3 linked regions of the Homo sapiens genome follow. The protein of the gene in region 2 binds, or shares a complex with, the protein of the main gene of each other region. Each region holds a gene or a part of one and is shown on either strand. Other genes may lie near its edges. A codon is read from its position in the direction of its gene.

What was found.
Region 1: the proteins of UBQLN2 (region 2) and ADRM1 are in contact, whole or in part, in an NMR structure (PDB 2NBV), measured with the Homo sapiens proteins. Residues at the interface, in NP_038472.2 of Homo sapiens: Lys38 (codon at 2,716), Ile75 (codon at 2,605), Phe76 (codon at 2,602), Ala77 (codon at 2,599), Gly78 (codon at 2,596), Lys79 (codon at 2,593), Ile80 (codon at 2,590), Leu96 (codon at 2,542), Thr97 (codon at 2,539), His99 (codon at 2,533), Val101 (codon at 2,527), Lys103 (codon at 2,521); in NP_008933.2 of Homo sapiens: Asp54 (codon at 2,285), Ser55 (codon at 2,282), Leu56 (codon at 2,279), Asp72 (codon at 1,552), Leu73 (codon at 1,549), Ile74 (codon at 1,546), Phe76 (codon at 1,540), Pro77 (codon at 1,537), Asp78 (codon at 1,534), Asp79 (codon at 1,531), Phe98 (codon at 1,474), Lys99 (codon at 1,471), Ala100 (codon at 1,468), Gly101 (codon at 1,465), Lys103 (codon at 1,459).
Region 3: the proteins of UBQLN2 (region 2) and PSMD4 are in contact, whole or in part, in an NMR structure (PDB 6MUN), measured with the Homo sapiens proteins. Residues at the interface, in NP_038472.2 of Homo sapiens: Lys38 (codon at 2,716), Ile75 (codon at 2,605), Phe76 (codon at 2,602), Ala77 (codon at 2,599), Gly78 (codon at 2,596), Lys79 (codon at 2,593), Ile80 (codon at 2,590), Asp94 (codon at 2,548), Gly95 (codon at 2,545), Leu96 (codon at 2,542), Thr97 (codon at 2,539), His99 (codon at 2,533), Val101 (codon at 2,527), Lys103 (codon at 2,521); in NP_002801.1 of Homo sapiens: Asp213, Glu215, Leu216, Ala219, Leu220, Val222, Ser223, Met224, Glu226, Gln227, Arg230.

Annotation. Positions count from the first base shown.
Region 1 is NC_000020.11:62,298,266-62,306,012, reverse strand, and holds the start of ADRM1 (proteasomal ubiquitin receptor ADRM1), read right to left. Parts: upstream 3,017-7,747; 5' UTR 2,964-3,016; intron 2,446-2,963; 5' UTR 2,445-2,445; coding exon 2,232-2,444; intron 1,553-2,231; coding exon 1,436-1,552; intron 1-1,435. UniProt on the Homo sapiens protein: Component of the 26S proteasome, a multiprotein complex involved in the ATP-dependent degradation of ubiquitinated proteins.
Region 2 is NC_000023.11:56,559,104-56,566,700, reverse strand, and holds the start of UBQLN2 (ubiquilin-2), read right to left. Parts: upstream 3,075-7,597; 5' UTR 2,828-3,074; coding exon 953-2,827; 3' UTR 1-952. UniProt on the Homo sapiens protein: Plays an important role in the regulation of different protein degradation mechanisms and pathways including ubiquitin-proteasome system (UPS), autophagy and the endoplasmic reticulum-associated protein degradation (ERAD) pathway.
Region 3 is NC_000001.11:151,250,566-151,257,786, reverse strand, and holds the start of PSMD4 (26S proteasome non-ATPase regulatory subunit 4), read right to left. Parts: upstream 3,054-7,221; 5' UTR 3,005-3,053; coding exon 2,979-3,004; intron 1-2,978. UniProt on the Homo sapiens protein: Component of the 26S proteasome, a multiprotein complex involved in the ATP-dependent degradation of ubiquitinated proteins.

The sequences.
Region 1 (7,747 bases), on a different chromosome or scaffold from region 2:
AGCACGATGCTCTGCGCCCTGTCCCCATCCGCCGCAATCCCGGGTGTGCCCTGTCCCCCTCCGCCCATTTCACAAATGGGGAGCCTAGAGCTCCGAAGGCACTTAGCTGCTGCCAGACCAAGCCCTCTCACCCTCCTGCCCTCTGGGGTGCGGTTCTTTACACACCCGTCTCCTTCCTTCAACCAGTGGAAGGCAGCGAACTGGCCCGCTCAGCACACCGCGGCCCAGGGCCACGGCAGGCGCTCACAATCGAGCACACGCGTGTGCACACACATGTGCACAGATCAGTGTCAGAAGCATCGACCTGCGAGCTCACAGAGCTGGGAGCAGAGCACCCACGCACACCCCGAATGGCTATGGAAGCTGCAGGGCGCCAGGGACACTGGGAGTCCCTGCTCTCATGGCAAAGCAGGGACGGGGGACTTAAAAGCCACCAACAGGAAAATCGGGGAAAAAAGGGAGATGGTGGTAACAGTTGGACACTATTTCTTGGCAAAACCGTGGAAAAACACGTTCTACACCAGCAGGTGGCAAATTGTGGCCGCCATCTGTGTTTGCAAATAAAGTTTAACTGGAGTTTGGCTATGCCTGTTCATTTTCTCAGGCCGCTGCACACTACTTGCACAGGTGACCAGCAACACAGACCATGTGCTCCACAGAGACCTCAGCCAGGGCCACCCCTGCTCTTGAAAGTGCCAAGGGGGGTGGGGTGGGGACAGCAGCTCCACCTCTGGCAGAGAGCATGGCCTTCTCTCTCCACACTGCAAACGCATGCACACGCTTCCTGACCACAGGCCCGCCACCAGTTTTCACCTACAGATGATACTGGCTTATGGAAAATGATCTGTGTACCGGGAAATTCTTTGCAACACTGCCTGTAACAGCACAAAAAACGGCAACAAGCTCAATGGTCACTGACAGATGGCAGAATGAGCAGCGGCCTCTAGACCCAAAAGACGCTCTGCAGCTGTGGGTAAGAGAAACCCTGGGCACTGACACCCCTGGCCTCCAGGACACACTGCCAGGGAAGGGGCAGGACTGTGGAAAGTGTGAGCAGGATGCTTCGTTTCTGTGAGCACCAGCAGGGAAGCCACACAGGGGCCTCTGCCTCTGCTGTGGGGGCCTCAGTGACCCACGGCAAGGGGCAGAGAGAGGGCACTGGGCATCGTTAGAACCAGGGCCAGCATGTCTGTCTGCCTGGAAATTTCACACCGCAATCGGTTGCCCGCAGCCCAGCCTGGAGCCTCCGTACTCTGGGAGAGGACCTCGGCCCCAGGTAGCATGCACCGCAGCCCTGAGGTGGCATCTCAGGCCGTGTGGCCGGGTGTGGCCGGCGCCTGCTGGTTTATAAAAGCCAATTGCACCACACTGTAAGCAAGTTCCTAACCGAATCGCAGGGCAACAAAAAGGCACAACCCCAAGGCCTGCCCCATACCTGCATCCAGAAGAAAAGCCGCTTGGACCCTGCCTTGAACTTCAGCACGTAGACCCTCCCGCTGGGGCACTGCGGCACCCGCTTGAACTCACAGTCGTCAGGGAAGATGATCAAGTCCTGGCAAGCCAGGGGAAGAGAGAGTCAGTGGCGCAGATGGCATCACTGTGCCCAGTCTCAGGAGAGCGTACTGAGCCCTGGGTCTAACCGGGTGGGGTGCGCAAGGGGCAGCTAAGCCGCCAGACCCCTCGCTGGCAGGGTCTCCACAAGGCAGAGAAGCCAGGGTCAGAGACAGCCCATGAAAGGCAAGGCCGGGGGAGAGAGCAGGGAAAGGGGCCTTTCAGATGGCAACGGGGTTTCTGAGACGTGCTGGAAACAACATTCCCAGAGTAGTTAAAAAGTCAACGCTGAACTGCTCTCAAATGTAACAAAGAACAACTAAGAGTTTGAAAAACAAAGAAGACTGAGTGAAGCCGCCAGGCACAGAGCTCCAGGCTCTCCAGGGCCACACCTCCAACCCCAGGCACCTCACACGGACAGTTCAAGGCCAGGCACAGAGCTCCGGGCTCTCCAGGGCCACACCTCCAACCCAGGCACCTCACACGGACAGTTCAAGATACACAGTGGCCGAGATGCCCCTGTCACCGCGGAAACCAGGACGACCCATCAGCAGGGCAGTCGATGACGGCCCCACGAGCGGTCCCCAGATGCGGCCAAGCCCCCACCGCGAACTCCAAAGCGAGGACTCCGAGGGCCCGAGAAGTCGCCTGTCCTGCTGCTGCGGCTCAGGGACACTCACGTCTTCCACGTTCCCGGACGTCCTGTCCTTCCAGCAGAAGTGAATAAGCGAGTCGTCCGTCTGCTGAATGTACACCAGCCCTTTCCGCTTATCCGGAGTCACGGTGGTCCCCTTCAGGGACATCTTTCCCGCCCGAAACTCCACCAAGTACTTGTTGGAGGCGCCCCGAGAGCCTGGCACCAGGCTTGGAAAGAGCGCGCCTGAGGTCGTCATCCTGAAAGCGCGGAGAGGACGCTGAGACGCGGCGGTCACTGTCGCCTGCGGTCCGGCAAGCTCCCGCCCCCTGGGGTGTTTGCGAGCAGGGGGCCTGCGCCCAGAGCTGCCTAAGGCAGACTCAGACACGCCGGGCTGCCTTTCCGCGTTTGCCCCGCTCACGACGATCGCACCGCCCGCACTCGGCGCTGGGCCGGGGCAGCCCCGCCAAGCCTAGTGGGGCCGGCCCTAGGCTTGACGCCGTCTCCGCGGGGCACCAGCCTCGACGCGCCACCCCGGCGACCCGCTCCGCGGGGCAGACCCGCCCGAGCTCCCGCCGAGCCCCACGTTCAGAGCCGCAGGCGGAACCGGGGCGGCGCCCGAGACCCCAGAACCCCCGCCCGGCCCGGCCCCCGCAGGCCCCACCCGCCGCGCCGGCCACCTTCTCGTCTTGGCTGCCCCCGCCCCATCCTTGGTCCAGCAGCCCCTGCCCCCGCCTCCGGTCGCCCCCGGCCGCCCCAGGCCCGGCGACTCCCGCACCTGCCTCGCGCCCACACTCGTTCGAGAGGCGCCGTCCGGGCTCGCTCTTCCTCCTCGGCGCCTGCCGGGCCCCGCCGGAAACCCGCGTTCGGCCCGCCCCGCCTGCCGCTCTCGCCGCCGATTGAGCCCCGTAAGCCGCGCAGCCGGCTCTAACCTGCCAACGATTGGCGAGGGCGACCGTCCATCGCACTCGCTCCTCCCCGGTCCGCCCCCGCGCCGGCGGCTCTTTTCCGGCGGAAGCGCGGGCCGCAGGGCGCTTGGACCAGAGCGGCCCCTATTGTTGCTGTGTCATAGGGGAGCGGCGGCGGCCCCTAGAGGCGGCGCCAGGGACCACAGGCGGGTTTCAGAGGGGCGCTGGGGAACTGCTCAGGTGGGGCCGAGCCCACCCCTCGGCGTCGCCCGCCCGGGCGGGCAGAGCTGTCACTCGTGTGGCTGAGCCAGGGGTTAGGCGGAGGCCGAGGAGTGCGGTCCGGCTGTGGGCGGCGGGCACCAGGGCTACGCATAGAAGTGACCATGGGTTCAGCGCTTTGGGGACCCAGGCGGGAGCTGGAGTCCACGCGTCCGGGAGAGCAGGGGTCCGGGAGGGTAGAGCGAGGGTGAGAACCGTGATATGGTCTCAGCTGTATACATCTAGTCCCGCAGGGGTCCGGGAGGGCAGGGGTCAGGAAGGGGTGGGTCCGGGAGGAGAGGGGTCCCGAGAGGGGAGGGGCTCCTGGAGGGGAGGGATCTGGGAGGGGTGAGTCCGGGAGGGGAGGGGTTCCCGGAGGGGAGGGGGCCCGGGAGGGGAGAGGGTCCCGGAGGGGAGGGATCTGGGAGGGGTGAGTCCGGGAGGGAGGAGTCAGGGAAGGCCTGAGTCCCAGACGGGTAGGGTCCTGGAAGGGAGGGGTCCTGGAGGGCAGGGGCTCACCCTCTGGACGCCTGGATGGGAAAGGCCACAGGGTAAAAAGGCGGCAGTCGCCCGCCAGTGTTGTGTAACTTTGAGTCACTTTGACACAAACTAAAGCGAAGACAACAGATAGTGTTTGTGGCGCCCCAGCCGGCTGCTGAAGGGACACGTTCTTTGGGATTTGCCTACAGCGACGCCAGGCGGGGGCTCTTAGAGGGCTCAGGCGCGGTGGCTCACGCCTGTAAACCCAGAACTTTGGGAGGCCGAGGCGGGCGGATTACTTGAGGCCAGGAGTTCAAGACCAGCCTGGGCAACATGGTGAATGAAACCCCGACTCTACTAAAAATGCAAAAATTAGCCAGGTATGCTGGCACATGCCTGTAATTCCATCTACTCAGGAGGCTGATGCACGAGAATCGCCTGAACCCGGGAGGTGGAGGTTGCAGTGAGCCGAGATTGCACCACTGCACTCCAGCCTGGGCGACAGAGGAAGACTCCTTCTCAAAAAAAAAAAATAATAATAATAATAGTAATAAAATAGAGAGGTCAGGCGCTTCGTGAGAACCCTGAGGTGCAGTGGCCTCTGCACCCCAGTTAAGCAAGACTAGATGTTTGCAGCTGAGACTGTGCCAGGGTCCTCAGGTTCTCCTTTGCCCATCGCTCACTTCCTTCTTTCCTTCAGATACTTCACTCCCTTCGGGCGCTCCCCGGGGTCACCGTGTGCTTGGTGGCTCACCCTCAGAGTGGATGCACAGCTGTGTGCTTACGTGCTCTCTGAGGTCTTTAGGTGTGTGTTTTCACTCACCCTTGTTGGGAGATGCGTTGGTGTTGATGCTGGCAGCTCCAGTCCTTTCATTCTGCAGGGAGCCTACTACTCAGGCCTCCATTGTCTCGGTGGCAGAGCTTGTGCCAGTTATGTTTAGTTGCCAGCTTTTGACTGTCATAATGCTTCCATTTGAAACATTGATTGAGCTAAAGATTCACGTTTTTTGTTTTGGAAAATGTAGCCACTTTTCATTTTAAAATGTGTGTTAACAGGTAGTAAGTTTGTTATTGTTATTTTTATGTAGCTAAATAATTTTAAATGTCCTCTTAATTCCTAGTATGGTAAATGTCAATAGATAAAGCTCACATAAACAAAAGCTCTTTGGGGTCCTGTATAATTTTTAAGAATTTAAACGGTTCCAGAAGCTAAAGGGCTTGAGAGGGGCTAACACAAAGCTCTGTGGCCCGCTGGTGACAGGTGCGTCACTGATACTGCAGCCCCATCCTCGTGCCCTCGTGTAAAACAGGGAAAAGGTGGAAATGAGAAAACCCAGCCTGGCTTTCCCGGCAAGAAGGTGGCAAGCGTCACTTGTTTATGTCACAGACAGTAAAGCAGAAGCCCCAGGGTCCGCAGGGGCCAAGTGTGCAGAGGCCAACGCAGTGGCCAAGAGGACCCTGGATTTACCATTTCCTCCACTTCCTGGAGGCCCTGTGGCCTGGGATGGCTCAAACAACCCCAGAACTCTTTACCCACACTTCAAGCGAAACTCCCACATTCCTATGAGCATGCTGCAGTGAGGAAACGAGCCGCAGCCAGGCAGGCTTTGCAGAGGCCACTGTGGGTGCCCGCTGCCAGCCCACGGGCTCTATGCGTGTGTGGGGTATGGCACCTGGAGCACCCAGCAGCCCAGGACTCCAGCTGTGGCCACAGAGTGGGTGGGGGGGCACACGCTGCTTTGTGTCAGGAATCTCGGACTTGAAGCACACACAAGGTCAGAAGGGCTGTGTGACATGTGCAGCTGTCCCTATCTTCTAATTGGTCGCTGATGGCAGTTGGTGGGACGTCTGCAAAATGCCCGCAGCATCTAGAGGAGCAGCCTCACCGGGACACGCGCATTCAGCTAAAGGATTTGGACTAAGAGATCCCCCAAAAGAGATTTCTATTCATCCTGTTTAGCAAAAAAAAAACAACCCCAGACTTGCATGATGGCTCACACCTGCAATCCCAGCACTTTGGGAGGCCGAGCTGAGAGGGTCCCTTGAAGCCCAGGAGTTCCAAGACCAGCTTAATCAAGACAGTGAGACCCTGTCTTTAGAAAAAGACAAATTAAAAAAGAGCCAGCCATGGCGGTGCATGCCTGTAGTCTCAGCTACTTGGGAGGCTGAGGTGAAGGTCAAGGCTGGCGGTGAGCCGTGATGGCACCACTGCACTGCAGCCTGGGTGACAGAGCGAGACCCTGTCTCAAAAAAGCCCCAAACTGTAAAGAAAGCACACCCTGATGCTCTCCACGTGCTGCAGGCTCCTCGGGTGAAAGGTGGGCGGCAGAGCCCAGGCTGCGCCTCCACGTGGGCAGAAGACACCTCCGGATGTTTCACCAAAGAGGTCACAGGCAGCAAAGGCACCATGGCAAGCTGCTCAACACCATTATTCATGAGGGAAATGCAAATGAAATACACCTGCTGGAACTTAGCAAACGATGGAAGGTGCCAGGCAAAGTTGGAAACACCAATGGCACGGCTACTTCGGAAAAGCATTTGGCAGGGGTAGGGTTTTTTAAACTTTTTTTTTTTTTTTTTTTTTTTTGAGATGGAATCTCACTCTATCCCATAGGCTGGAGTGCAGTGGCTTGATCTCAGCTCATTGCAGCCCCCGCCTCCTGAGTTCAAGCAGTTCTCCTACCTCAGCCTCCTGAGTAGCTGGGATTACAGGCATGTGTCACCAGACCCGGTTAATTTTTGTATTTTTATTAGAGACAGGGTTTCACCATGTGGGCCAGGTTGGTCTCGAACTCCTGAGCTTGAGCGATCCACCCGCCTCAACCTCCCAAAGGCTGGGATTACAGGTGTGAGCCACTGCACCTTGTGGGTTTTTTTTTTTTTTAACATTTTAAAAATAGACAAGTCACAACTGAGTGGAAGGCAGAGAGTTCTGGTCCCCCTGGGTGTTCGGTGAGCTACGCCGCCACCGGGTCAGCGCCCAGAGCCCGCCATTCGCGTCGAGGTCCACGTCGGTCCATCTGTGCTGCCACCACTGACCAGGCAGTTTACAAAGAAGCGAAACGTACTTTCTCACAGTTCTGCAGGTCCGGAAGTCAGCGTCAGTGGGGCGGCAGGCCTGGTTGTCTGGTGAGCGCTGTCCTCACCTGGCGTGGCACTGATGCTCTGTGGGGCAGACCAGGCAGTGTGGGAGGAGCCTCTGGCTCCGGGCTCAGGCAATGGTGGTGGAGCCCCACAGCCAAACCCCTGGAGCATTCCGAGAGCATGGACGTCTTGTGGACCGTGTGTCCCTCTGCCCCAGCCACACTGACCACTGGGACGACTGAGTCTGCTCAGCTTACGCTCCTGAAAAGCACGAAGGTGCTGGGGCAACTTACGGCAGAAGGCAGGCAGCTGAAACCTGGGGCACCGGGCCCTTCGCTGCTTCTAGCAGTAGCGTCCCCCCGCCAGGGGAGGGGGGTCCATCAGAGCCTCCTGCTGCTTGGAGAACCTGGGTGCTCCACCCATCACATGTGCCGCCCGACAGGTGTCACGAGTGTCCCCCAGCCCCCTCTCCACAGGGCAGTTTTTGGAAATGAGCCATTTGCTTGGCCAATCCTCAGGAACACGCGGTCCAAACTTCTGATAACCAGGCATGAGGACTCATCCTTAGCAGATTTGTAGCCCTTTTCAAAATGGCCAGAGCGGCTGAGATGGTGAAAAATTGCTCAGTGTAAAACAAAGGTCACCTGCTGCCCATCTTCAGAGAATCTTCATTCAAATCTTAGAGGTTAACATTTATTTTCACAGATGTGTACACAGCCCTCTGAAAAATCTGAGGATGACTGTGTTAATGCAGTTTGGCACTGACAGTTGTTAAATATTATAAAATAAGTGCGTTCTGCTGGCATCTTTTCTCAGCTGCCATGTCCTTGCT
Region 2 (7,597 bases):
ACTACACTGATCCTTCAGGCTGCACAAAGATTAAGGTCATATACAGTCAATCTGCAAATGTTGACACAATGTTACACTGTAAATTTTCTGTACAATTAAATGTATACTTAGAGATACCAGGATAAACATTTCTACTATATTTTAACTGAACTTGCCTAGCCAACATTTTCACTGAGAAGTTTATCAAAGATGCTGTAAGATTCTACAAAATTGTGAGACATAACTAGCTCCAGAAACATTTCTTGTATTCTTTCTCATTTTGGTTACACATATTACACTCAGATTCTACTGTAATATTTTTAGATGTACAGTGCCAATTGTGCTTACTGTACTGTATACAAATATAGCAAAAAAGATCAATGGTATAAATCTTACAGCATTTTGCTAGCAAAAATACATGCCAAAGTCACAATAAGCAATATCGTACCACAAATTAGAGAGCTTCAAATAATTTGCTTCTGTTTTTAATATCTTCATTCTACATTAAATTACTATCATAGGCTAATGTTTAAAAATGCAAATAAATTGGACATCTGTAGGACAACACTTGTTCACCCAACTGTGAAGGTTGATACCTGTTTCCAAAAATCACAATAAATGCAGAATAAAGAGAAGTGTTTGCATGCAACACTTTTGAGTGAAACAGCATTGATTCCCACCACTCAAAACGGCTAAGGAAGGAAACTAAAGGAAATAAGGAAGGAAGGAAACAAAGAGGGAGGGAGTGGGGAGACAAGAGGAAGGGAAGGTAGGAAAAATAAGCAAAGGAGAAAGGGAGTGAGGGAAGTAGGAGGGAGGGACTCCATCTTAAAATGCATCATATTAGACTTACAACTAGACAGATTTAAAAGAATCAAAATGAAAGTAAAGAACGATTTTGTGTGTGTGTTTAAAGATTTAAGAGCCATTATCAAAAATAAGATACATTTTTTTTCCAGGTACAGAAATGTGATTACGATGGCTGGGAGCCCAGCAGCCTTTCAATGGCTGCATTGATGTCGCCTCCTGTTGCTATTAGGGCCTGCAAGTTTGCTTCACGGTTTAAGAACCCCATTGCGTTGAGCTGTTCCAGTTGTTGCTGAAATCTGACTTCTGGATTCGGCAGCTGTGGAGCATTTGCTCCAGCCAGGGCCTGCACCATTTGCTGAATGAACTGCTGGTTGGGTCCAGATTCTGATGTAGGACTCGTGGTTTCACTAGGTGCAGCGCTGGACACAGTAGGCCCCGTGGGGCCACCAGAGCCGGTGGAGCCAGGGGGGGCTGCAGGGCCAGTGGGTCCTATGGGCCCAATGGGGCCTATGGGGGTAAAAGGGACTATAGGGCCTATGGGGCCTATGGGGGTGACTGGGCCTACAGGGCCTATAGCGGTTCCCAGCACCCCCACCCCCACACCTGGAGTGAAGCTCGGAATCAGGCCAGGTGCTTCAGTGGCTAATGTCTGTAGCCCCTGCTGGATCTGCATTAAAGCCTGCATTGCTCTTGGGTTTGACATGGCTGATAGTGTGTCTGGATTCTGCATCTGCTGCAGGAAGGCTGGGAGCTGTGGCCGCATCTGCTCCTGCAGCTGAGGATTTGCAGTAAACAGCGGGCTATTCAGCATCATCTGTGCAGCCAAATCTGGATTCTGGCTCAGCGACTGCATCATGCTTCTCATGTAGGGCGCCGACAGCATATTCTGAATCAGCTGGGGGTTTTCAGTTATCTGTTGCAGCAGGCTCTGCATGCCTGGGGTACTAAAGATGCTGGCGACATAATTAGCGGCAGCAACGGTGTTCCCAGTAGCATTGCTGGAACTATTGCCAGACCCACTACCAGTGCTTGTGGTCGTGCTGGTAGTTGCAGAACTCTGGGTAGCTGGCGGTGGTGCCCATGGATTGGGTAGTGGATCGCGATTTTCTGTGCGGGAAGGCTGCGTACCTTCCCCAGAGGAGGAACTACTCCCCACGGAGGCAAATGGATTACCCCCAAACTGCTCTTGTGCGGCATTCAGCATCGGCTCTTGAATGTCAGTGTACATGCGCCGTAAAGCATTATAGCCACCTGGGATGCTTTCTAGATTGCTAAGAGCCAGGTCTTGATTTCTCATCATCTCTTGCATCATGGCTGGATTCCTGGCAATTTCGAGTGTCTGCCTCATTATGTCTGGGTTGTTGAGCAGGTGACTGATTTCTGGGTTTCTCTGAATCAATTGCTGCATCTGTGGATTAGCCATAATGAGCTGCCTCATCAGATCGGGATTCGAAAGCATGCTCTGAACAAAGGGATTTTCCATTATTTGGATCATCATCTCAGGGCTGGCCATAAGCTGCTGCTGCATCTGGCTCTGGAGCTCAGAGAAGTTGGTCGAGCTCAAGCCCAGGCTGCTAAGGCCTGCAAGTCCTCCCAGGCTCCCCAACCCAAACGGGTTGCTATTTGTGGAAATAGGTGTGGAGTTACTCCTGGGAGTCGACGCCGAGGTAGTGTTAGTTCCCGCGGCATTGCTAGGCTGCGTGGACTGGCCCTGAGGTCGGTTCTGGCTTTTGATGACAAGGTGAACAGTCAGCCCATCATGGATGCCATGCTGGATCAAGGTATCTTGATCTTTTAAGATTTTTCCGGCAAAAATCAGCACTAGCTGATCGGTTTGGGATTTGAAGCGTTTCGAAATCGCTTCCTTAAACTGCTGAACCGAGCTGTTCTCGGGCACCGCGAACTCCTCTTTCTCTTTGGGAGTCTTCACCGTGACTTTGATGATTTTAGGCTCAGCCGGGGCAGCAGCCGAGCCTTGGGCCGCAGCAGGGCCGCGGGAGGGGCGCGGGGGGCCGCTGCTCTCGCCATTCTCAGCCATGGCGGCCGCGGTGACGCAGGCGGGCAGGGAAGGCGCGGGCGGGCGAAAGAGAGAGCGCGAGGGAAGGAGGAAGGAAGGAGGCACCGCCGCAGCGGGCTGGGCCGGGTCAGGCGGGGAGCGCGGAGCACGGTACCTCTGTGATGAAGACTGCGGTTCCCTGGTCCTCCGGTGGAGAAAGGCCTGGGCGTAGGCCGCTGGCTGAGGTCTCCGCGCTCCGGTCTCTGGGCCTCCTCCGCCGCCGCCTTGTGATCCGACCGCGCGCACTCCCAGCAACTCTGGCAGCCGCTCCGCCTGCTGATCCCCGCCCCTTCCCCTCCCCCAGTTCCGCGCTCGCCTCCCCGCCCCCTCTGCTGACGCGGCGCCAGGCCTAGATTGATAGATTTGGCTCGGTCAAAATTAAAAACTTCTGCACTGAAAAGAAAAAAGGGAGAGAGAGAAACAAAGGGAGAGAGAGAAGAGAACAGAACAGTACAGAGCAGGCGAGGCAGAGAGGGTGAGACGGAGAGAAGGAGGCGGTAGAGAGTCAGCTTCTGTAAACGACATTAAAAGACCAATGGAGAATGTATATTAGCAATCTGTAAGGCAGTAAAAGGGTGAAAGCCTGAATCGAACAGATCCCACGTATAAGACGAAAAATGAATAATAAAGAACTCTGACAAAGCAAAAAGAAAAGAGGAACACCTCCAGTAGGGGAAGGGAAGAAGACAGAGCAGGAGCGTGCATTTTACAAAAGGAGTGCAAATGGCCAATAGACATTAAAAAAGGATGATTAATTTCACTACTAATAAAAAGAAATCAAGTTAAAACAATAAAATTCTACTTTTGGCTTATCATATTGGCAGGGAAAAAAATAATGGTAAACCTTCTTGTTGACAGGGACCCTAAAAAATGCCCTCTCAGGCTAGCTGAAGTGTGAATTGTTACAACCATAGGGCAATTTGAAAATATATATCAGCATTTTGAATGTTTCCACCTTTATTTAGAAATGCCTAACCTAGACACTTCGCCTAATAATCGGATGAGGATGCAAAAATATTTATGTATAAAATGTATATACATTGTAGCATTTTAAAATGTTATTTAAATATATTAACTATCTGTTTACATGAGATTAGTTGAGCACATTATCATATTACCATACAAGAAAATATAGAGTGTCTTTAAAGGTATACATGAAATAAACTGTAGTTATAGGGAAATCACAGAGTATTTTCAATTATGCCTTTGTATATTTCTGTACAGTTACAAACTATATAAGAATATATGTTCCAATATCAAAAATACAATAAATATATTTTTATTTTAAAAGCAATTTTTGAACAGTTTGTTGTATATGTAAACCGTATGTGTAAAAAAATCTGGAAGGCTATGCACAAATAAGTTAATGGCTGTTAGTACTGTTTGCTGAAATTATGAATAATTCTTATTTTCTATTTTCATAAGATTTTGAATTTTCTGATGATTTTTGTAAGTATGCACTACAGAAAGGTATTTTGGGGAAGAGTATGGGTAGAAATTGACAGGCACATAATAGTAGTGGCAAACATTGACATATTTACCTAATTTAATTACAGATTAAGTAAGAGCAATAAAGATGTAGCAATGCTGAGAAAGAGAACTTGAAAAATAGAAGAAATAATTTCAAATTTATCTATATATTTCTAACTCTAGGTTAAACCACACAGAAAATTCTTCCCCAACCCCCACCCTCTACCAAGCATCCACCAAAGCACCACTGCTTTCAACATTTAACAGCATTTCAAAGTCATTAGGTCACAAATACTTTAATAAATCTGAAGATAAGAAAAATATATATATACAGGTATGTTATATCCATCGATGGAGAAATGGAAGAATTAATATTATTTTACCTCTCTATTTTATTAATATAATTAATAAAATACAGAGGTAAAAAGATGACTAGCTTTAAATATGTTAATATGTATAGATCTAAAAAGCCAAATTAATTAGTATTAGGTTGATGCAAAAGTAATTGCGGTTTTTGCCATTGAAAGTAACGAATTGTTACTATTATACAATGGTTTTTGCCATTGAAAGTAATAGCAAAAACCGCAATTACTTTTGCACCAACCTAATACATGCCAAACAGCACTCTAATACATTCTTATGTATATTTGAAATATTCTTTTAGAAATATACCAAACTTGCACCCATGAGGAAGAGGAAATGGAATAGGATACAGGATAGTGAGTAAAGGGAACTTAAATATGTAAAAATGCTTTTTATCTTTAAAATGAAAGCAAATATGATAAAATATCAGCAATAGTTAATTATGGGTGGTGAGAATATGAAAATATTATAGGTAATCTTTAATTTCCATAGAATAAAGCTAGATATTAATAATCAAAGTATGAACAAAAAACCAACCATTTGATTATTAAAACATAACTGAATACTTTTGGGGCAAAGTGCAATGTTCTTATTAGAATAAATTTACAAAAATAATGATAATGAGAGCATATACAGCAATACTAATGCTAGGATTTTTCTACGTGTGATCTGAGAACATTGTTAAGAATGCATGTTTCTAGGCCCCACGCCAAACCTACTGAAATAAGTGGTGCACTGGAAGCTGCATTTGTATCAAGGTCCAGTTTAATATTATTTCATTTATTAAGTACTATGTGGATGAACTCAGAGTCAAATTTATACATTCAAAGACTTAAAATATCAAACAACAGATTGAAAATAAGGGAAGTAGGCATTCGAATAAAGAAGGCAACGGAAAATAAAAGGAGGGAAGTGAGGTGACAGCTATAGAATGATAAAAGCAAATATTAATGAATTAACAAACAGAAAAAATAAAATTTGTTAAGTAAATCTAAGAAAGTATTTGAAGAATCAAGTCAAATACACAAATCTTTATTAATTGGCGATTGTCTTGGCTGACAATTCCCTCACCAAAATACACATCAGAGGGGCAAAACCATACTCACCCTCTTGAGGAAACCTTCCAGAAACACACTTCTTTGCATTATCTTTCTTTACCTTAAAAATTATGTGATTGTGATTTTTTGACATTTTACTTCAAAATATATTACTTTTAATGTTTTAAGTTACAATGAAATAAAATTAACATTTTAGTAGTAGAACATACGTATCCTCATTAGGGAAAAGGACAGCATTAATTAGCTGAAACAAAGAAAGCACCAAGAAAAATATACGAACTAGTATTGTGTGAATACATTTAGTCACAGATGAAGGAGATTTTTTTTTTAATAAAAAAGAAATACGTTGTAAAAAGATTGGCTAATGACAAAAAAAAAAAAAAAAAGCCCTGATGACTACATTTCTAGGAAGATAGATATGGCCAAAATATATTCCAGAAGTAGAAGATCTTAACAAACCATGTAAGAGACATGTAAGAAAATGAACAAGGCCAGGTGCAGTGTTTCATGCCTGTAATCCCAACACTTTGGGAGGCCAAGTCAGGCGTATTCCTTGAGCCCAGGTTCAAGAACAGCCTGGGTAACATGGCGGGACCCCATCTCTACAATTTTTTTTTTTTTAAACTAGCTGAGCTTGATGGCTAGTGCCTATAATCCAAGCTACATGGGAGGATGAGGTGGGAGGATCGCTTGGGCCTGGGAGGTGAAAGTTGCAGTAAGCCTTGATCATGCCACCACACTTCAGCCTGGGTTACAAGAAAGTAAATAACTAGTTATTCTAAAAATCACCTTTCTTGTTCGTAGTGGCTGCTGAGCTTACGTTTTTTACCCTCTCTCTTTACCAAATCCCACTGAAGTGACAGAAATGAGAAAAATAATAACCCCCGAACAGTAAGCCTTGATCATGCCACCACACTCCAGCCTGGGTTACAAGAAAGTAAATAACTAGTTATTTTAAAAATCAGCTTTCTTGTTCATAGTGGCTGCTGAGCTTACGTTTTTTACCCTCTCTCTTTACCAAATCCCACTGCAGTGACAGGAATGAGAAAAATAACAACCTCATAACAGTTTTGAAAAGGTGGAAAGAGTGCCATCAATGAACTTTTAAGTTAAATATCAAAATAAATTCTAGATTAAAAAATGAAATCATAAAATTTGCAGAAATATATTAGGGCAAATATTTACATAAGCTAGGCATGATGGTAACCTGATGAAAATGACAAAGAAAAATCATGGATGGAAAAAATTAATAGATTTCATTAAATAAGAATTTTAAACTATATATCAACAATGTAATAAAAATTAAGCAGTTAAAGACAAACAAAAAAATTGCAACATATATAACGCATGAGATCTATCCATGACATACAGACACTTCTTACAAATTTTTAAAAAATGAACGCTCCAAGGGAAAAATAGGCAAAGGATGTTAACCAGTATCTTACAAAAGAAAAAAAAAGTCAGAATGAAAAGAAAAAGGAAAGAAGGAAGAAAGGGAGAAAAGGAAGAAAAAATATGTTATCTCCTTTAAATAAAAAAATACAAATTAAAGTAACTGTGAAATACTTTTTGTCTATAAAATTTAAAAGACCAATATAATATCCAATCTAGACATAGTCAATAAAGACTGCCTAAGTTCAAATCCTGGTTCTATTACCTCTGATTGTAAACTGCATGACTTTGGCAAATAACTTAACTTTTCTGTACTTCAGTATTCTTCATTTATAAAATGATGGACTATTTTGATAATCAAATAAATTAACGTATTTTAAGCACCTACAAGTTTCCTGCTCATAGTATCCACTATAGAAGTATTATTATCATTAGTAGTAGTAGTACAGGAAAGAGGTAACTCATAATC
Region 3 (7,221 bases), on a different chromosome or scaffold from region 2:
TCAAGACCAGCCTGGCCACATGGCCAAACCCCATCTTTACTAAAAATACAAAAAAAAAAAAAAAAAAAAAAGAAAGCCAGGTATGGTGGCGGGTGCCTGGAATCCCAGCTACTCAGAAGGCTGAGGCACAATAATCACTTGAACCTGAGAGGCGGAGGTTGCAATGAGCCGAGATCACACCACTGCACTCCAGCCTGGGAGACAGAGCAAGACTCTGTCTCATAAATTAATTAATTAATTAATTAAAATTGGCCATTCTTCCCACAGCAATTTACAGATTCAATGCTACTCCTATCAAACTACCAAAAACATTCTTCAAAGAACTAGAAAAAACTATTTGAAAATTCATATGGAACCAACAAAGAGCCAGAAAAGCCAAGGCAATCCTAAGCTAAAAGAACAAAGCTGGAGGCAACTTTACCCAACTTCAAACTATTACTTAGGGCTACAATAACCAAAACCGCATGGCACTGGTACAAAAACAGGCACAGAGACCAATGGGACAGAATAGAGAGTCTAGAAATAAAGCCGCACACCTATGACCATCTATTCTTTGACAAAGCTGACAAAACAAGCAGTGAGGAAAAAGAGTCCCTATTCAATAACTGGGGATACTGGCTAGGCTAGCCATATGCAGAAGATTGAAGCTGGACTCCTTTCTTATACCATACACAAAAATTAACTGAAGATGGATTAAAGACAAGGTAAAACCCAAAACTATAAAAATCCTGGAAGACCGGCCGGGCACAGTGGCTCACGCCTATAATGCCAGCACTTTGGGAGGCTGAGGCGGGCGGATCACCTGAGGGTGGGAGTTCGAGACCAGCCTGACCAACATGGAGAAACCTGGTCTCTACTAAAAACACAAAATTAGCTGGGCGTGGTGGCGCATGCCTGTAATCCCAGCTACTAAGGAGGCTGAGGCAGGAGAATCGCTTGAACACGGGAGGCGGAGGTTGCGGTGAGCCGAAGGTTGCGGGGAGCTGAGATTGTGTCATTGCACTCCAGCCTGGGCAATAAGAGCGAAAAAAAAAAAAAGTGGGCAAAGGAGCCGGGCACAGTGGCTCAACGCCTGTAATCCCTGCACTTTGGGAGGCTGAGGCGGGTGGATCACCTGAGCTCAGCAGTTTGAGACTAGCCTGGCCAACATGATGAAACCCCGTCTCTACCAAAAATACAAAAAAGCTGGGCGTGGTGGCGGGCACCTGTAATCCCAGTTACTCAGGAGGCTGAGGCAGGAGAATCACTTGAACCAGGGAGGCGGAGGTTGCAGTGAGCTGAGATGGCGCCACTGTACTCCAACCTGGGCAACAAGAGCAAAACTCCTTCTCAAAGAGAAAAAAAAAAAAAAAAGTGGGCAAAGGACATGAACAGACATCAGACACTTTATTTTTATTTATTTATTTATTTATTTATTTATTTTATTATTATTTTTTTTTTTTTGAGAGGGAGTCTCACTCTGTCGCCCAGGCTAGAGTGCAGTGGCGCCATCTCGGCTCACTGCAACCTCCACCTCCGGGGTTCAAACGATTCTCCCACCTCAGCCTCTGGAGTAGCTGGGACTACAGGCGTCCACCACCACGCCTGGCTAATTTTTGTATTTTTAGTAGAGATGGGGTTTCACCATGTTGGCCAGGCTGGTCAGTAACTCCTGACCTCAGGTGATACACCCACTTCAGCCTTCCAAAGTGCTGGGATTACAGGCCTGAGCCACGCCCCAGCCAGACACTTTTCAAAAGACGATATACATACAGCCAACAAGCCTATTAAAAAAACCTCAATATCACTGATCATTAGAGAAATGCAAATAAATCAAAACCACAACGAGATACCACCTAACACCAGTCAGAATGGCTATTACTAAAAACTAAAAAAATAACAGATGCTGGCAAGGTTGCGAGAAAAGAGAACACTGTTCTATCGTTGGTGCAAGTGTAAATTAGTTCAATCACTGGGAATCACTTGAACCAGGGAGGCGGAGGCTGCAGTGAGCCAGACTGGGCCACTGCACTCCAGTCCGGGAGACAGAGCGAGACCGTCTCAAAAAAAAATTATTCATCGTTTATCTGAAACTCAAATTTCACTGGGCATCCTGTATGTTATCTGGCAATGCTATGCTCCCCCGAGAAAATAAAAAGAAGAAATCTCATAGGTGCCTGTTTCACCCAATCGGTGATTTGTGTTCGTCAACTATTCTGTATTACATTCAGTGATTACACTTAGAAGGAACTCTTGAAACCCTGCAAAAATTTATGTCCTCCTCTTCTAATGTGACTCGTAATAGGTACTCAGCCCAAGCCTGAAACTGACAAAGAGAGCTACCTCACCGGATAAAGCCTTTGTGTCAGACAGCCGTGGGTTTAAATCTTGACTCCACCACTTAACTAGCTGTATGATTTTGGACAAATCACTTAAAATCGCTGAGACTCGGTATCCTGAACCGTAAAATGGAGAGATAATTTACCTTAAGGTGTGGTTGTGAGGTATAAGTGAGATAAACAAAATGACTGATACATAAAAAGCAATCTGTAAATGGTACCTTTGAAGATGATACAGGGAAAGGTAATGAAGTTAGAGACGAGGGAATGGGGAGAGGAAGGGATTAATAATCTATTTTCCTAATAGACGTTATTTTGCAAAGAAAGGAGGGCAGAAAACTATTACGATGAGTCCGAAAAGCAGAACTGTAGCTAAAGACAGACCCGGGCTGCTCTAGAGAAGACGGCGCTAGAACAGAGAAAGGAAGCAGGAATGACCAGTCAATGACCGTCCCCCTGGGGGTAACAGTGGTAACCCGGGACTATCCGCCACTCCAGGGCCCCGGGATGACTCAGGGAGTCCAGCGGGCTCCTTACCTCCGGGGCCAGGGCCGCCTCTCGCCCATGAGCCCCTGGCCCCCACCCCAGGCCCTCCCTGCCTTGGCGCTACACGCGCCCGGAACCCAGCTCTGCCCCTCCTGCCCCGAAGTAGCTCCTCACCACACCATAGTGCTTTCCAACACCATCTTGCCACCTTCCTCCCTCCCGACCGGGTCTCCGGGACGGCCTAACAACAACTCCTCCAATTGGCCCGTCGCTCTTCACCAATCACAGACCTCGGCTTGGCCAGCTGCTTCCGCCTCCGTCCCCCACGTTGCGTTCTGGGAGTTGTAGGTGCCGCCAAACAAATTTGTAGGCGTCTTGAGGGTAGTTGAAGGGAATCGCGGTAACACAAAAAACAGGATCTAGCCTCCACTTTCCCTGCCATTGCAGTTCTCAGTTGGGGTTTCCCGCTGGCCGGATCTCAGGGGAGCTATGGAGGAACCTTTGAAAGTGCTGTGTCGATTCCGGCTTCGGCATTTTAAAAAAGTGTCGGGATCGGCCGAGCGCGGTGGCTCACGCCTGTTAGCCCAGCACTTTGGGAGGCCAAGGCGGGCGGATCACGAGGTCAGGAGTTCGAGACCAGCCTGGCCAGCATGGTGAAACCCTGTCTCTACTAAAAATACAAAAAATTAGCCGGGCATGGTGGCGCACGCCTGTAATCCCCGCTACTCGGGAGGCTGAGGCAGGAGAATTACTTGAACCCGGGAGGCAGAGATTGCAGTGAGCCGAGATCGCGCCACTGCACTCCAGCCTGGGGGACAGAGTGAGACTCCGTCTCAAAAAAAGAAAAAAAAAAGTGTCGGGATCGCTAATGACTTTCTACAGCCCTCAGTTCCCTGTAGAATTTTAATTCAACAAGCCCTTATACCCTTCAATTGAATTTATTTGTATATTTATCTCCTCCCTCGTTTAACTAAGGGTGGGCAACGTGCCTTTTTTTTTTTTTTTTTTTTTTTTTTTTTTTTTTTTTTTGAGACGGAGGAGTCTCGCTCTTTCACCCAGGCTAGAGTGCAGTGGCTCGATCTCGGCTCACTGCAACCTCCACCTCCTGGGTTCCAGGGATTCTCCTGCCTCAGCCTCCCAGGTAGCTGGGACTACAGGGGCATTCCACCATGCCCGGCTAATTTTGTATTTTTAGTAGAGACGAGGTTTCACCATGTTGGCCAGGCTGGTCTCGATTTCCTGACCTCAGATGATCCACCCACCTCAGCTTCCCAAAGTGCTGGGATTACAGGCGTGAGCCACCACACCTGGCCGGCAACGTGTCTTAATCTTTACAATTCCCTAAGCCCAGTACAGAGCCCGGAAAAGATTTGACAACTCAATTATATTAACTAATCTGCCAAAGAACAAACCACTAAACCGTTTTGGTTAATCAAAAATTACATTCAAGGCCTGATGCAATGGCTTAGGTTTTATAATCCCAGCGTTTTGGGAGGCCCAGGCAGGAGGATCAACTCAGGCTAGGAGTCTGAGACCAGCCTGGACAACACAGCCAGACTCCGTCTCTACAAAGTTTTATTGTTTGAGACAGGGTGTCGCTCTGTTGCCCAGATTGGAGTGCAGTGGCCTGATCTCGGCTCACTGCAATCTCCACCTCCCGGGTTCAAGCCATCCTCCTGCCTCAGCCTCCTGAGTAGCTGGGGCTATAGGTGCATGCCACCAAGCCCAGCTAATTTGTTTTTAATTTTTTGATGTGGGAGGATGGCTTGAGCGCATGAGTTCGAGACCAGCGTAGGCAACATAGCCAGACCCCATCTCTGAAAAAAAAAAAGTCTCAAAGTGTTGGGATTACAGGCGTGAGCCATCACATCAGCTGGATATTTGATATTAAGCAATTTTTTTAGGCATGATAATAGTGTTAAAGTTATCACCCTTATAAAAGTAGGCTTTATTAAGGGTTATATGTTGTATTCATAGATAAAAAAAGTATATGAAGTTTGGGATTTAACTTAATCCTCTGGAAGAAACAAATAGTTTTGTTTTTTGAGACAGGGTCTCAAAGTAAAACAAAAGAGACAAGGTCTCACTGGGCTGGAGTGCAGCAGTGGTGCAATCATACATAGCTCACTGCAACCTCTAACTCCTGGCCTCCCATCTCAGCCTCCGAAAACTGGGATTACAGGCTTGAGCCACTGCACCCGGCCACGCTGGTCTTATTTATGTTGATAATTATTGAGGCTGGGTTATGTGTACATAGTGGTTCACCATACTACTCTACTTTTGGTTTGGAAATTCCCATAATGAAAAAAAGAAGGCCAGCTGGGCACGGTGGCTCACGCCTGTAATCCCAGCACTGAGAGGCCGAGGTGGGCAGATCACTTGAGGTTGGGAGTCCGAGACCAGCCTGGATACCCCCGTCGCTACAAAAAAATACAAAAATTAGCTGATTGTGATGGTGCCAGCCTGTAGTCCCAGCTACTTGAGAGACTGAGGTAGGAAAGTCGCCTGAGCCCAGAAAGTCAAGGCTAGAGTGAGCTGAGATTGCTCTGGGTAACAGAGCAAGACTAAAAAAGAAAACCAAGGCTGGGAAATCTCAGCACTTTGGGAGGCCGAGGCGGACGGATCATAAGTTCAGGAGATCGAGAACATCTTGGCCAACATGGTGAAATCCCATCCTACTAAAGATACAAAAATTAGCCGGGCATTGTGGTGGGTGCCTATAGTCCCAGCTACTCTGGAGGCTGAGGCAGGAGAATCACTTGAATCCGGGAGGAAAAGGTTGCAGTGAGCCGAGATCGTGCTATTGTACTCCAACCTGCGCGACAAGAGTGAAACTCCGTCTCAAAAAAAGAAAAACAAAACTAATAAAGAATGAGACTTCATCTCTGAATACATCTCAGAATAGCTGAGATTGACATGCTTAAGGGTAAAATATCAGACCAGATGACGATTTCCAACTTTATTATCCTATGATTTTAATTTCTCTTTTAGTTAGAAGTTTTACACTAATAGACCCTACTTGTATCTGAATATAAATTAGAGCATATAGCTAGAGAATAAGCACTAGTCGCTGCTCACCGCTAGAGGGACCCTCTGATCATAAGAGGATTATCTACACCACCCATTCAGTAGTTTTGAGTACACTCTGAGTGACAAGGTCAGGGATGCAGAACATTTATGCCTAAAACATGTTAACCTCCAATTCCTATTAGGGAAAAAAGTTTTCTCCTTATCCAGACAAAAGGAGGACTGGCTGGGGCTGTGGGAAAATCAAATTCAAAACTTTGAGAATCTGGGCCGAATGCAGTGGCTCACGCCTGTAATCCCAGCACTTTGGGAGGCCGAGGTGAGCGGATCACTTGAGGCTAGGAGTTTGAGACCAGCCTGGCCAACATGGTGAAATCTGTCTCAAAAAAAAAAAAAAAAAAAAGAAAGAAAGAAAGAAAAAGAAAAGAAAAATGAAAAGAAACTTTGAGAATCCCCCATTCCTCTTCCAATCCAAGTACTTGCTTTTTCTTTCTTCTTTTTTTTTTTTTTTTTTTTTTTGAGATGGAGTGTCACTCTGTTGCCAGGGTGGAGTGCAATGAATGGTGCAATCTCAGCTCACTGCAACCTCTGCCTCCTGGGTTCAAGCGATTCTCCTGTCTCAGCCTCCCGAGTAGCTGGGATTACAGGCGCCCGCCACCATGCCCGGTTAATTTTTTTTTTTTTTTTTTTTTTTTGAGAAGGAGTTTCACTCTTGCTGCCCAGGCTGGAGTGCAAGGGCTCGATCTTGGCTCACCGCAACCTCTGCCTCTCAGGTTCAAGCGATTGTCTTGCCTCAGCATCCCAAGTAGCTGGGATTACAGGCGTGCACCCACCACGCCCAGCTAATTTTTTGTATTTTTAGTAAAGATGGGTTTTCTCCATGTTGGTCATGCTGGTTCTCCCTGTTGGTCGAACTCCCAACCTCAGATGATCTGCTCGCCTCGTCATCCCAAAGTGCCGGGATTACGAGCGTGAGCCACCGCGCCTGGCCTAATTTTTGTATTTTTAGTAGAGATGGTGTTTCGCATTGTTGGCCAGGCTGCTCTTGAACTCCTGGCCTCAAGTGATCCACCCATCTTGGCCTCCCAAAGTGCTGGGATTACAGGTGTGAGCCACTGGACTTGGCCAATCCTCTGTTTAATTCTGATGGAACTTTGTTAGTCTCTCAATTATTTTGTATCACATCCTATTGGGGCAAAAAATATTTCAGGGTTCCCAATATTGCCTCTAACTATACTTATTCCAATATTCTCATCATGATCTCTTCCTTGTTCTCAAAAACAGACCATTCTCATGCATCTAGGTCCTTGTGCTGAAGTGAAACATTCTCTTAACACTTCTTTCGCACGTAACTGCTAATTTTTCCCCCTTTTATGTTCTGTGCCACCTT